2 separate regions of the Homo sapiens genome follow, and region 2 is linked to region 1. Evidence: fine-mapped expression QTL. A gene starts in region 1. The other region holds a variant in brackets. All regions are shown on one strand. Distances are from middle to middle.

Region 1 (5,377 bases):
TTTCACCCACAGTCACGCTGCCAAAAGAGGAAGGATGTTGGTTATGTAACAGTGGAAAGGAAAAGAAACAGACGAGATACTTACCAGCAAGGTGTCCAGTGCATCAATTAGAGTCAGAGAAAAACTGCAAAAGGACAGAAATCCCAGCCGCTTAGTAAGAAAATCAAATACCAGATATTATGGCTGCCCTAGATCTGATCCCCCTAAAACTAAATGAGGCAAAGTAATGCCTCTGCCTGTCCCACTTACAGTCACAACAGAGAAACCACAGTGAAAATCGCAGGTATTCTCTGACCCACTTAATGCACCTGGGAGGGTTGGCTGATGTAGCTCAATTGTAATTAAATACATCACCTATAGTCTGGCATTCTCCTCTACCATTGGGAGGCAGTATAAGATTGCAGCTTAAAGCACAGGCCTTTCACCAATTTTCACCTCTAGGAATTTAATTCACAGTGAACAGCTGTTTGAGAGTGTTCATGGCAGTATTGCTTAGAACAGCAAGAGGCTGGAAAGAACCCAACTGTCCACCCATTAATGGGTGATTAAACTGTGTTATAAACAGTGCAAAACTATGAGTTATCAAAAAGATTGTTATCAAGACTTCTATGTGCTGATGGAAAGACATTCGAATTGTTTTTAATGAAAAAGTCAGGGTGGTTTAGTATGTTTCCATCTGTTTCAAAAAGACATGCTGACAGAAAGCAGACAGCAATTGTTAGGGTCAGTGGTGGTGCAGGGATGAACTATAAAGGGCCACAAGGGAACTTTTTAAAGTGACAGAAGTGTTTCATATCTTGACTGTGATGGTGGTCACTTCAAACGAGTGTAGGCTGGGCACAGTGGCTCATGCCTGTAATCCGCCAGCACTTTGGGAGGCCTAGGTGGGTGGATCACCTGAGGTCAGGAGTTCAAGACCAGCCTGGCCAAATGACAAAACCCCGTCTCCACAAAAAAATTAGCCGGGTGTGGTGGTGGGCTCCTGTAATCCCAACTACTTGGGAGGCTGAGGCAGGAGAATCGCTTGAAGCCAGGAGGCGGAGTTTGAAGTGAGCCAAGATCACGCCATTGCACTCCAGCCTGGGTAACAAGAGCGAAACTCCATCTCAAAAAAAAAAAAAAAAAAAAAAGAGTGTATTTTATTATATGTAAATTATGCCTTTAAGAAGTTCATTTTAAAAAGATACACATACACACATCTATATATATAATGGTATAAACCAAGAATATTTCTGGACAGATACAAAGGAAAGTTAATAGTTGGAATTCTAGGGTATGGGAGATATTTATTGTATATAATCTTTTACCACTTGAATTTGCCATTTGTATTTACTTTGTTTCAACTTAAAAAAATAAAAACCATCACAAGTTTTGAGTTTAATTTCTCCCGACCTTAGCACATTCGTGTGTAAAACAGGGATAATGGCACCTAACTCGTAGGGGTATTAAGATACTGAGCTGAGATCTGAATGACAAGCAGCAGCCAGTGATGGGAGGAAAATGGGGAGTGTATTTCAGGCACGGGGCACACCAACTACAAAGACTTAAGTTTTAGGAGTGTCACACTCCTTCCTGGATCTGAATGCCCACCTACATAATGAAAGGGGTGGGTTTTCTAATTCTTGGAGCCCTTCCACGGTATCTCGTTACTCCAGAAATTGCCTATGTCCCCACAGCTGATGCCTGTTACTGCTGGGGCTGAGCTCAGCGATCCAGCCCACCCGGCTAATCCAGGACTTTTTTTTTCACTGCGAGAGGCTAAGTGGATCCTGGAGGTGATAGTAAGAATTGCGGGGAGCGCGGCTCTAGCTCAGCTGGGAGCTTTCTGGTGCCGGTGAGGAGACCATGAAGCCACCAGCCCCAGCTGACCCGCCCGCCGAGGCCCAGAGAGTCAGACCCTGGCCGCCCCTTGCCCCTCCGCTCGCACTACCTGCCCCAGGTGTCGTGCCCGTCACAGGTGAGAGGTCGCAGCTCATCGAAGGGAAAGGCATTCTCCAGGTAGCTGTCGTAGGCGTGGTAGAACATGGCCTTGACTCGCTCCCTGGGTGGGGGACGAGAAATCAGGCATGGGGCAAGAACACAAAAACAAGCGGGGGAAGAACAAGATACAGGGCGGAAAGTGGGAATCACTAGCTGATTTCTCCCTGGGACCTAGCGGCTGTGTCGGAGCAAGTCGGGGTCTGGGATGGACGGAAAGGGAAAGGACCGGGTTCACGCTTCCCATTCCCCAACTGCGAAAGGGCGGGTCACAGTTCACCTGTAGTGGGCGGGATCTGGCGCGGAGCCGTCGGGACCTGGCGCACCATGGTGCTGAGGCAGCAGCGCGCACAGGAGGCCGAGCGGGATGAGCAGCCGGAAAGGCATAGAGCTCGTGTCCTCTCAGCGCCCCCGCAGCAGCAGCAGCCACTGCAACCAGTTCATCCTGGGAGCTGCTGCGGGTTCTTCCGGGAATCCGCGCCACTGCGCCTGCGCGCTGAGAAATCAGCCTCTCACTTCCGGACTACAAGCCCCTGAATGCAATGGGCAGCGAAACGCGGCCGAAGAGCAACTTCGGATGTACGGTTTCGGCAACACTGATCAACGTGTCTTAAAGTCAGTGGCTGTTGTTACTACTGTTATTAATTAATGTTTTAATAATAACAGCTAGCATGTATTGAGCACTTATTGTGTACTAGTACTGTACGGAGCATTTAAAATGCATTCTCTCATTCATTTTTTTCAACAACCTTATTAAGTATGAAGGCAGGGTAAGCATGAGAAATGTTCAGCCTTTACCATTATTACCTAGCAGGACAAGCCGCAGACAAAACTCCTCAGACACCGGGTTAAAGAAGGAAGGAGCTTTATTCGGCCGGGAGCGTCAGCTGACTCACTTCTCAAAAACGGAGCTCCCCGAGTGAGCAATTCCTGTCCCTTTTAAGAGCTTACAACTCTAAGGGGGTCCGCGTGAGAGGGTCGTGATTGATTGAGCAAGCAGGGGGTACGTGACTGATTACCGGTGCACCGGTAATCAGAACGGAACAGAACAGGACAGGGATTTTCACAATGCTTTTCCATACAATGTCTGGAATCTATAGATAATATAACCGGTTAGGTCAGGAGGGGTCGATCTTTAATTACCAGGCCTGGAATGCATCGCCGGGCTGTCTGACTACTGATTTCACTTCTGTCTTTCTTTTAACTCCTACATTTTCTTTGAGGCAGAAATTGGGCATAAGACAATATGAGGGGTGGTCTGCTCCCTTATTTAGGGATATTGAGTTTCCCAAACCAGTTACTTGTTGATTGTATAAGACACAACTCACATTTATTTGTCCAAAACTTCCACTCTTTTTTTTTTAAAACCTCTTGCATTTTCCGATGCTGTCACTCTTGAGGTTTCCTGAAATCCCGTCAGTTCTAGGAATTCATGACACTTCTCTCCTCCCAATTTGGGATGTGGTTACACAATCATGGTCCCTTCAGTCTCCATCTCAAACCGGAAGCTTTACCCCTGTCAGCCCTGTAGAATGTCTTGGGTAAGAATGAATACCCTGGTTGGGCGCGGTGGCTCACGCCTGTAATCCCAACACTTTGGGAGGTTGAGGTGCGTGGATCACCTGAGGTTAAGAGATAGAGACCAACCTGGCCAACATGGTGAAACCCCGTCTTTACTAAAAATACAAAAATTAGCCAGGGGTGGTGGCGGGTGCCTGTAAATCCCGGCTACTCGGAAGGCTGAGGCCGGAGAATCGCTTGAAACCGGAAGGCGGAGGTTGCAGTGAGCGAGGATCGCGCCACTCCACTCCAGCCTGGGCAAAACAGCAAAACTCCATATCAAAAAAAAAAAAAAAAAAAAAAAAAAAAAGACAAATGACTACCCTGGGGCACTATAGCTTTCAGGAGGTTTGTGATCCATTTCTCCATTCCCCTTATTCCCAAGTTTCTAAAATTTGGTCAGCACCTTAGACCACAGCAACACCCATGACTTTGGTCAGTGTGACATGCGGTAGAACCAACACTGGATTTGAAGTCAGATCTAGGATCCAGTTAATTACAACTCTGTCACTCATCTATAACCTGTGTATGTGACCCTCTCCTTCTCTGGGGCTAGCATCCTTGTCTATAAATAATGAGGAGTTTGAACAAATGGATCTTTAAGATCCTTTTCGGTCGAGCTTTCTATGATTCTAGGATTGGCTATCTCTTATTTGCTGAAAAAGTCAGATGGAAGTGATAGCTCAGTTTGTTGAGCCAGAGTGCAGCCAGGCCTCCCAAAGTGCTGGGATTACAGGCATAAGCCACTGTACCCAGCCTGGGATGTTTTTAGAAACTCTTCTTGGCCGGGTGCAGTGGCTCACGCCTGTAATCCCAGCACTTTGGGAGGCCAAGGCGGGCGGATCACGAGGTCAGGAGTTCAAGACCAACCTGGCCAATATGGTGAAACCCTGTCTCTACTAAAAATACAAAAATTGGCCGGGAGTGGTGGCAGACGCCTGTAGTCCCAGCTACTCAGGAGGCTGAGGCAGGAGAATCGCTTGAACCCGGGAGGTGGAGGTTGTAGTGAGCCAAGATCAAGATCAGGCCACTGCACTCCAGCCTGGGAGACAGAGCGATACTCTGTCTCAAAAAAAAAAAAAAAAAAGAAACTCTTCTTGGGGCTTCCAAATGGAAGGGAAAGGAGATGACAGTAAGCTGAGACCTGGATAACAACACAGGAGCACTGTATTCGTTTCCTGTGATTCCTGCAACAAATTACCACAAACCAAGTGGCTTAAAGCAACAGAAATTTATTCTCTCGCAGTTTGGGAGGTCAGGAGCCTGAAATCAATTTCACTGGGCTAAAATTAAGTTATTGACAGGGCCACACCCACTCCAAAGGCTCTAAGGGATAATCCGTTCCTTGCCTCTCTAGATTCTCCTGACTGCTGGCATTCCTTGGCTTATGGTTGTATCACTCCAGTATCTGCCCGTGCCTTCATATCGCCTTCTCTGTGGATGTGTCACATCTCCTTCTGCTTTTCTCTTATAAGGACATTTATAATTGCATTTAGGACCCCCCCCGCGCCCCCCCCAACCCAGATAATACAGGATAAACTCCCATTCCAAGATTTTTAACTTAATCACATCTAGGGGGAAAAAAAAAAAAAAACACCATTTTTCCAAATAGAGAAACATTTACAGTTTCCAGAGATTAGGACCTGGACTTTAGGTGGCTGTTTCCAGCCTAGCGCAGGGACTAAATATTTTTCAGACCTGGGCCTTTCCCTGTGACGAAATTCACCTTCTCCATATTATAAATCCTATAGCTTATCTTTTTGTCTCCCATTCAAAATTCTAGTGTGGATAAAACTTTTGCAGGAAGGGTGGGTTCAGGTTGCCTGGATTTGGTAACGAT
Region 2 (5,377 bases), 130 kb before region 1:
GTGGAGAGGTGGAGACAAGACCTAGTCACACTAAGGCTTGGGTTTTAATGCCCTGCAGGGACTAGACAGGGTGTCAGGTCCCAGTAAAGCCTGGGGAGCATGTACACTTGGTGAAAGAAGGGTTAGAAAGGCCTGACCCACCAGCCCAGGGAGCCTGGCTCTGCCATGGTGCTGCTGGTGGGTGAAGGGGGCCCTCCCAAGAGCAGCAGAAACCCTGGGCTCATACGACTGGGGCAGTAGGGCCAAGACATTAAATAAGAAAACTGGCCCTGGGACAGCTGCCAGACAAAAGCAAAAGTGCCCTGTAGAAATGCCTCCAGGGCTGAGGCTACACAGGTATCCAAGGGGGAAACTAACCCCACTGACCTCAAGTGATCTGCCCGCCTTGGCCTCTCAAAGTGCTGGGATTACGGGTGTGAGCCACCATGCCCGGGAGCACGTTTCTATAGGTGGATGAAAATTACAATAGGATAAAACAGCAAATAAGGAAAAGCAGGCTGCTAGCTCATGCAGTGGGCAGCCCCCTCCCTGCCTGGAGTGAAATGAGATCCCCATCACAGAGATTACAAGGGGAAGTGGCTAGAGGGCCTCAGGCAGAATTTTTTTTTTTTTTTTTTTTTGAGACACAGTCTCACTCTGTTGCCCAGGCTGGAGTGCAGTGGCGTGATCTCAGCTCACTGCAACCTCTGCCTCCTGGGTTCAAGCAATTCTGGTGGCCGCTCCACAGACATTACAAAACACGAGGCAACACTCCACCCTGAGGTCTGAAGACCCAAACACAAGCATTAGTGCCCCATGAGCAATCGAAAGAGACCTTAAGAAAGTATTTTAAAAATGATTAAAAACAGAATATGCAGCAGAAAAAAGATATTAACATCATGGCTAAGCAGTTTCCGAATTGAGCCAGACAGAACATCTAGAAATGCAAAATATATTTGCTTGAAATTAAAAACTCAAATGATAAAGCAGAAGACAGGTCGCTGAGGGAAGTCCCCAGAGTGCAGTGAAGAGAAGAGGGCCCCATGGCACCAGGCCGATGGCTGGGTGGCACTTTTAGGTCCCAGAGCACTTTCCTTCTCATGCTGGTAGGCAGGGTGCCGACTAGCCGGGGGGCCAATAGGGGAAAGAGTATTATCCTTCTTTTGCAAGAAAACAGAGGCTCAGAGATTCAGTGATTCATTCAAGCTCTTCCAACAAGCCTTCCAATGTCCTGTTCAGAGCTCTCTCAAGGGGACTGTGAGAGACACAAGCTAAAGGAGAGTGCTTGGGCTCAAAAAACCAAAGCCACCTTTTTTTGTATGAGACAGTGTCTTTGCTCTGTCACCCAGGCCGGATGTGCAGTGGCTTGATCTTAGTTCACTGCAACCTCTACCTCCCGGGTTCAAGTGATTCTCCCACCTCAGCCTCCTGAGTAGCAGGGATTACAGGTGCCCCACCAACATGCCTGGCTAATTTTTGTATTTTTAGTAGAGACGGGGTTTCACCATGTTGGCCAGGCTGGTCTCGAACTCCTGACCTCAAGTGATCTGCCCGCCTTGGCCTTTCAAACTGCTGGGATTACGGGTGTGACCACCACGCCCGGGAGCACGGTTCTATAGGTGGATGAAAATTACAATAGGATAAAACAGCAAATAAGGAAAAGCAGGCTGCTAGCTCATGCAGTGGGCAGCCCCTGCCTGGAGTGAAATGAGATCCCTATCACAGAGATTACAAGGGGAAGTTGGCTAGAGGGCCTCAGGCAGGAACTTTTTTTTTTTTTTTTTTTGAGACACAGTCTCACTTTGTTACGCAGGCTGGAGTCCAGTGGCGTGATCTCAGCTCACTGCAACCTCTGCCTCCTGGGTTCAAGCAATTCTGGTGCCTCAGCCTCCCGAAGAGTTGGGATTACAGGCACCCAACACCATACCTGGCCAATTTTTGTATTTTTAGTGAGAGACGCAAGTGTCTCTCACACTAGTGAGACAGGGTTTCACCATGTTGGCCAGGCTGGTCTGTAACTCTTGACCTCAAGTGATCTGCCCGCTCGGCCTCCCAAAGTGCTGGGATTACAGGCCTGAGTCACTGTGCCCAGCCTAGGAAGATCTTAAAAGGGATTTCTGCATAGGTTGGGGTGGGGAGTGGAGTTCACTCAGATCCTACTCCAAGGTAGCTTCCAATTAGGGGACTATAAGATATGATTTTAGTTTCTGCTCTACTCCCAAAGGAAAAAAGGTCAAAGGGTCAGCAGCAGGTCTTGAAACAACTACTCCAAGCCAGTGAGGCCCCATCTGTCCCCGGGGGTCTCCTGCTTACCGGGCTACAGTCACAGTTCTGGTTGTGACCATGGAGGACAAGGGCAGATGCTGAATGCTTCCTCCAAATCAGTTTGTCAAACAAATTATTAAGTCCAGGGATCAGCTTGAACTCTGCAATCATTCTGTGAACCTGAATGGGATAGGAAGGAAAAAGTATTAAGACAAATGTGCTTGAAAAATCTAGCAAAACCTCGTGCTCAGTACACACGATAATGATATTCAGGACAAG[T/C]ATCAGTACTGTCAGTAAGGAGGGCCAGGGTCTGAAGAAAACATCCGTGTATCCCCTATGCCCAGCACACACAAACCCACTTTCTAACTTTGCTCATTAATGCTCACAATAATCCTACAAGGCATAATGTCCGGTAGTTCCTATCACAGAAGCATGAGTTTGGGATTCAGAGAGTCCTGCATATGATTCAAGAGTCCTTTGGGATGCAAGAGTCCTGGGTTTGACTCTTAGCTTTACCATGTGCAAACTTTGTAACCTTAAACAAATTCCTTAAGATTTGTCTCCTCGTATTAACATCAAAATGTTCCTCATGCTTTGCACTAGGATAAATTTCAGCTGAAAGTAAGATACAATTATTAAAAAACTCTAAGATCTAGAAAAATCTCTGCAAAGAAAAAAAAATGATCTAAGAGTTGGAAAAGCCTTTCTGAAGGATTATAATAAACCTAGAAGCTCAAAAAGAAGCTTGTTGACATCAACCACCTAAACCTTTAAAAATTCTGTATGGCAAAACTCAAGCAAAGTCACAAGCCAAATATGACAAACAGAGAACATACATTGGCAATTCATGCCACAGGCAAAGAAATTCCTCTATAAGGAGTCCTACAAATGTCTCTGATTTTTCACTTTTTCAGACTGGGAAAGATGACAAAGCTTTATAAGACCGTGTTGGTGACTTGGGCATTGGGTACATTCACACGCTGTTGGTGGGAGGGCACACTGGTATGACCTGCACAGGGAAGAGTGTTTGGCAGTAGCTCTAAAATTGCAAATCCATAATCCCTTTAAACCAGCAATTCCACTTTAGGAATTTACACTCAGACAGATCCATATAAACACTAAATGATATATATTTACAACACTACTCACTATAGCATTATTTGTAATACCCCAAAATAAATTATGGTATGCCACTCAATGGGATACAAGGCACCAGTAAAAAAGAATCAAGGTATTTTATATGTCGTGAACTGAACAATTGCCGAGAGATAATACTGGGAAAGCAAGTGTGCTCATGCTGTATTACTGATTGTGTAAAAAAAGAGGAATACAATTCGCCTTTGTAAGCATAAAAATGTCTCTAGAAGGATACACTAATAACTGGTAAAATTAGCTGCTTCATGGAACCATTAGAATAGAATGTCAAGGATCAGAGGGGAGAGAGGCTTCACTTATACTAATTTATATCTTTTAAAACAGAACTGCAGGAATGATTTCCCTGTTAAAATTTGTTTATATAACATAAGGCTATTACTAGCCCTTCTCGGGGCTGTTGTAAGGATCGAGTCAGAAAGCAGATGTAAAGCTCTGCACACAGCACCAGTGCTCGCTTATTGCTATTTTACAAGGGGGAGAAGTTCAGCAAGACCAGCCTGGGTAAGGTCAGTGATTGCAACGGCACCTAACTCAGGTGTTCAGATCTTAAGTCTGCCCCTTTCTAGCCCACTACAGGTATGCATTTATCTTGGGAGACCAGAAGCTGACAAAGACATCCCTGGCAGCCTCCATTTCCATGGACCTCTTCCTTCAACATATTAGGTTGTGTAAAAGTAATTGCGATTTTTGCCACTGAAAGTAATAGAGGTGACTATTCTCTTCCTACTAGAAATCACAGCCTCTGGCCAGTGTTAAGACTCATAAGCAGCCCAGAATCTGTTAGACTGAGGCTGATGTAAAATGACACCTGTTCTGCCACTCAGGCCTTTACTAAAACCCAGCCTGGATCTACCTTGCCCTGCTTAACTGGGGGTGGGGAGGTACGGCTGACATCTATGGTGTTCACCAAGCCATGTGCCTTCCTGTCTCACTCCAAAGGGCCCTAAGCCAGGCCCAGGTCACACAGCTATAAAATGTTCCAACAATGGCCCAAAAAAATTCATCCAGTGCAATTGCCTCACTGCACAGACTAGAAACCCAAGCTTAAGAGATTAGGGGTGAGTCACACAGCTGGGAAGAGAGGGGCCTTCTAAGGCAGACTTGGACCTGACCCTGGGTCTCCTAAGTTCAGGCCAGTGCTTAGGTTTGAGGTTTCTACTACATCATTTCCCTTTTCTCTTAACAATACCAGCTTCTCGGCCGGGCATGGTGGCTCACGCCTGTTAATCCCAGCACTTTGGGAGGCCAAGGCGGGCGGATCACTTGAGGCCAGGAGTTTCAGACCATCCTGGCCAACATGATGAAACCCTGTCTCTACTAAAAATACAAAAATTAGCTGGGTGTGGTGGTGTGTGCCTATAACCCCAGCTACTTGGAGGGCTGAGGCAAGAGGATCGCTTGAGCTGGGGAGGCAGAGGTTGCAGTGAGCCGAGGTCATGTCACTGCACCACTCCAGCCTGGGTGGCAGAGCAAGACTGTCTCAAAAAAAGAAAAAAAAAAAAAAAAAAAAAAGAAAGAAAGAAAATAGCAGCTTCTTCATGTGTAAAATTTGTAAAACAAATTTTACTTGTAGAATGCATTATTCCTACTCTCAGGTCCAGCCCCGTAGCCTGCTCTATAGCAGGATGGTAGGCAGGTGGGCGAGATGAAGTGCCACTCTACCAGAGGAGGCAGCGGGTACAGGCTCAGGCATTTATCTCTGCAGTCAGACAGCCCTGGGTTCACAAGATAGCTCTGTGACCCTGGGCAACATTCTTTGAACCCAAGTCCCTTGATAGAAAAGGCGATGGGGGACGATGGAGCTGTTGAAAAGGCTCAGTGAGGTACTGTAGAAGCTACTCAGGGGGCACTAAAAGAAACGACTGCTATATGGATGGTTTTCATTAGCACCAGAGGGATGAAACTTGACAGCACATGGGGAGCCTTTCCAGTCCTGAGATTTCAATTTGGCCAAGATTGGTCTGAGAACTTGGCCCAA

Evidence for each region. PIP is the estimated chance that this variant, and not a neighbour inherited with it, causes the effect.
Region 2: its variant is fine-mapped to the expression of EDEM2 in whole blood (TOPMed, PIP above 0.99).

What each region holds. Positions count from the first base shown.
Region 1 is chr20:35,144,895-35,150,271 of GRCh38, forward strand. It overlaps EDEM2 (ER degradation enhancing alpha-mannosidase like protein 2), which reads right to left and starts at 2,442. Exons shown (of 11, transcript NM_018217.3): 1 at 2,258-2,442; 2 at 1,931-2,041; 3 at 85-124. The coding sequence starts at 2,364. MMP24-AS1-EDEM2 (MMP24-AS1-EDEM2 readthrough) reads right to left here. Exons shown (of 15, transcript NM_001355008.2): 6 at 1,931-2,041; 7 at 85-124. The coding sequence starts at 2,025. RefSeq lists enhancers at 1,624-2,227, 2,476-2,605.
Region 2 is chr20:35,013,716-35,019,092 of GRCh38, forward strand. It overlaps TRPC4AP (transient receptor potential cation channel subfamily C member 4 associated protein), which reads right to left. Exons shown (of 19, transcript NM_015638.3): 10 at 2,293-2,424. Among named protein-coding and RNA genes, the nearest start is that of MIR499B, 26 kb to the left of the region's middle. RefSeq lists a silencer at 4,378-4,578. The variant T/C (reference allele first, on the strand shown) is at 2,524.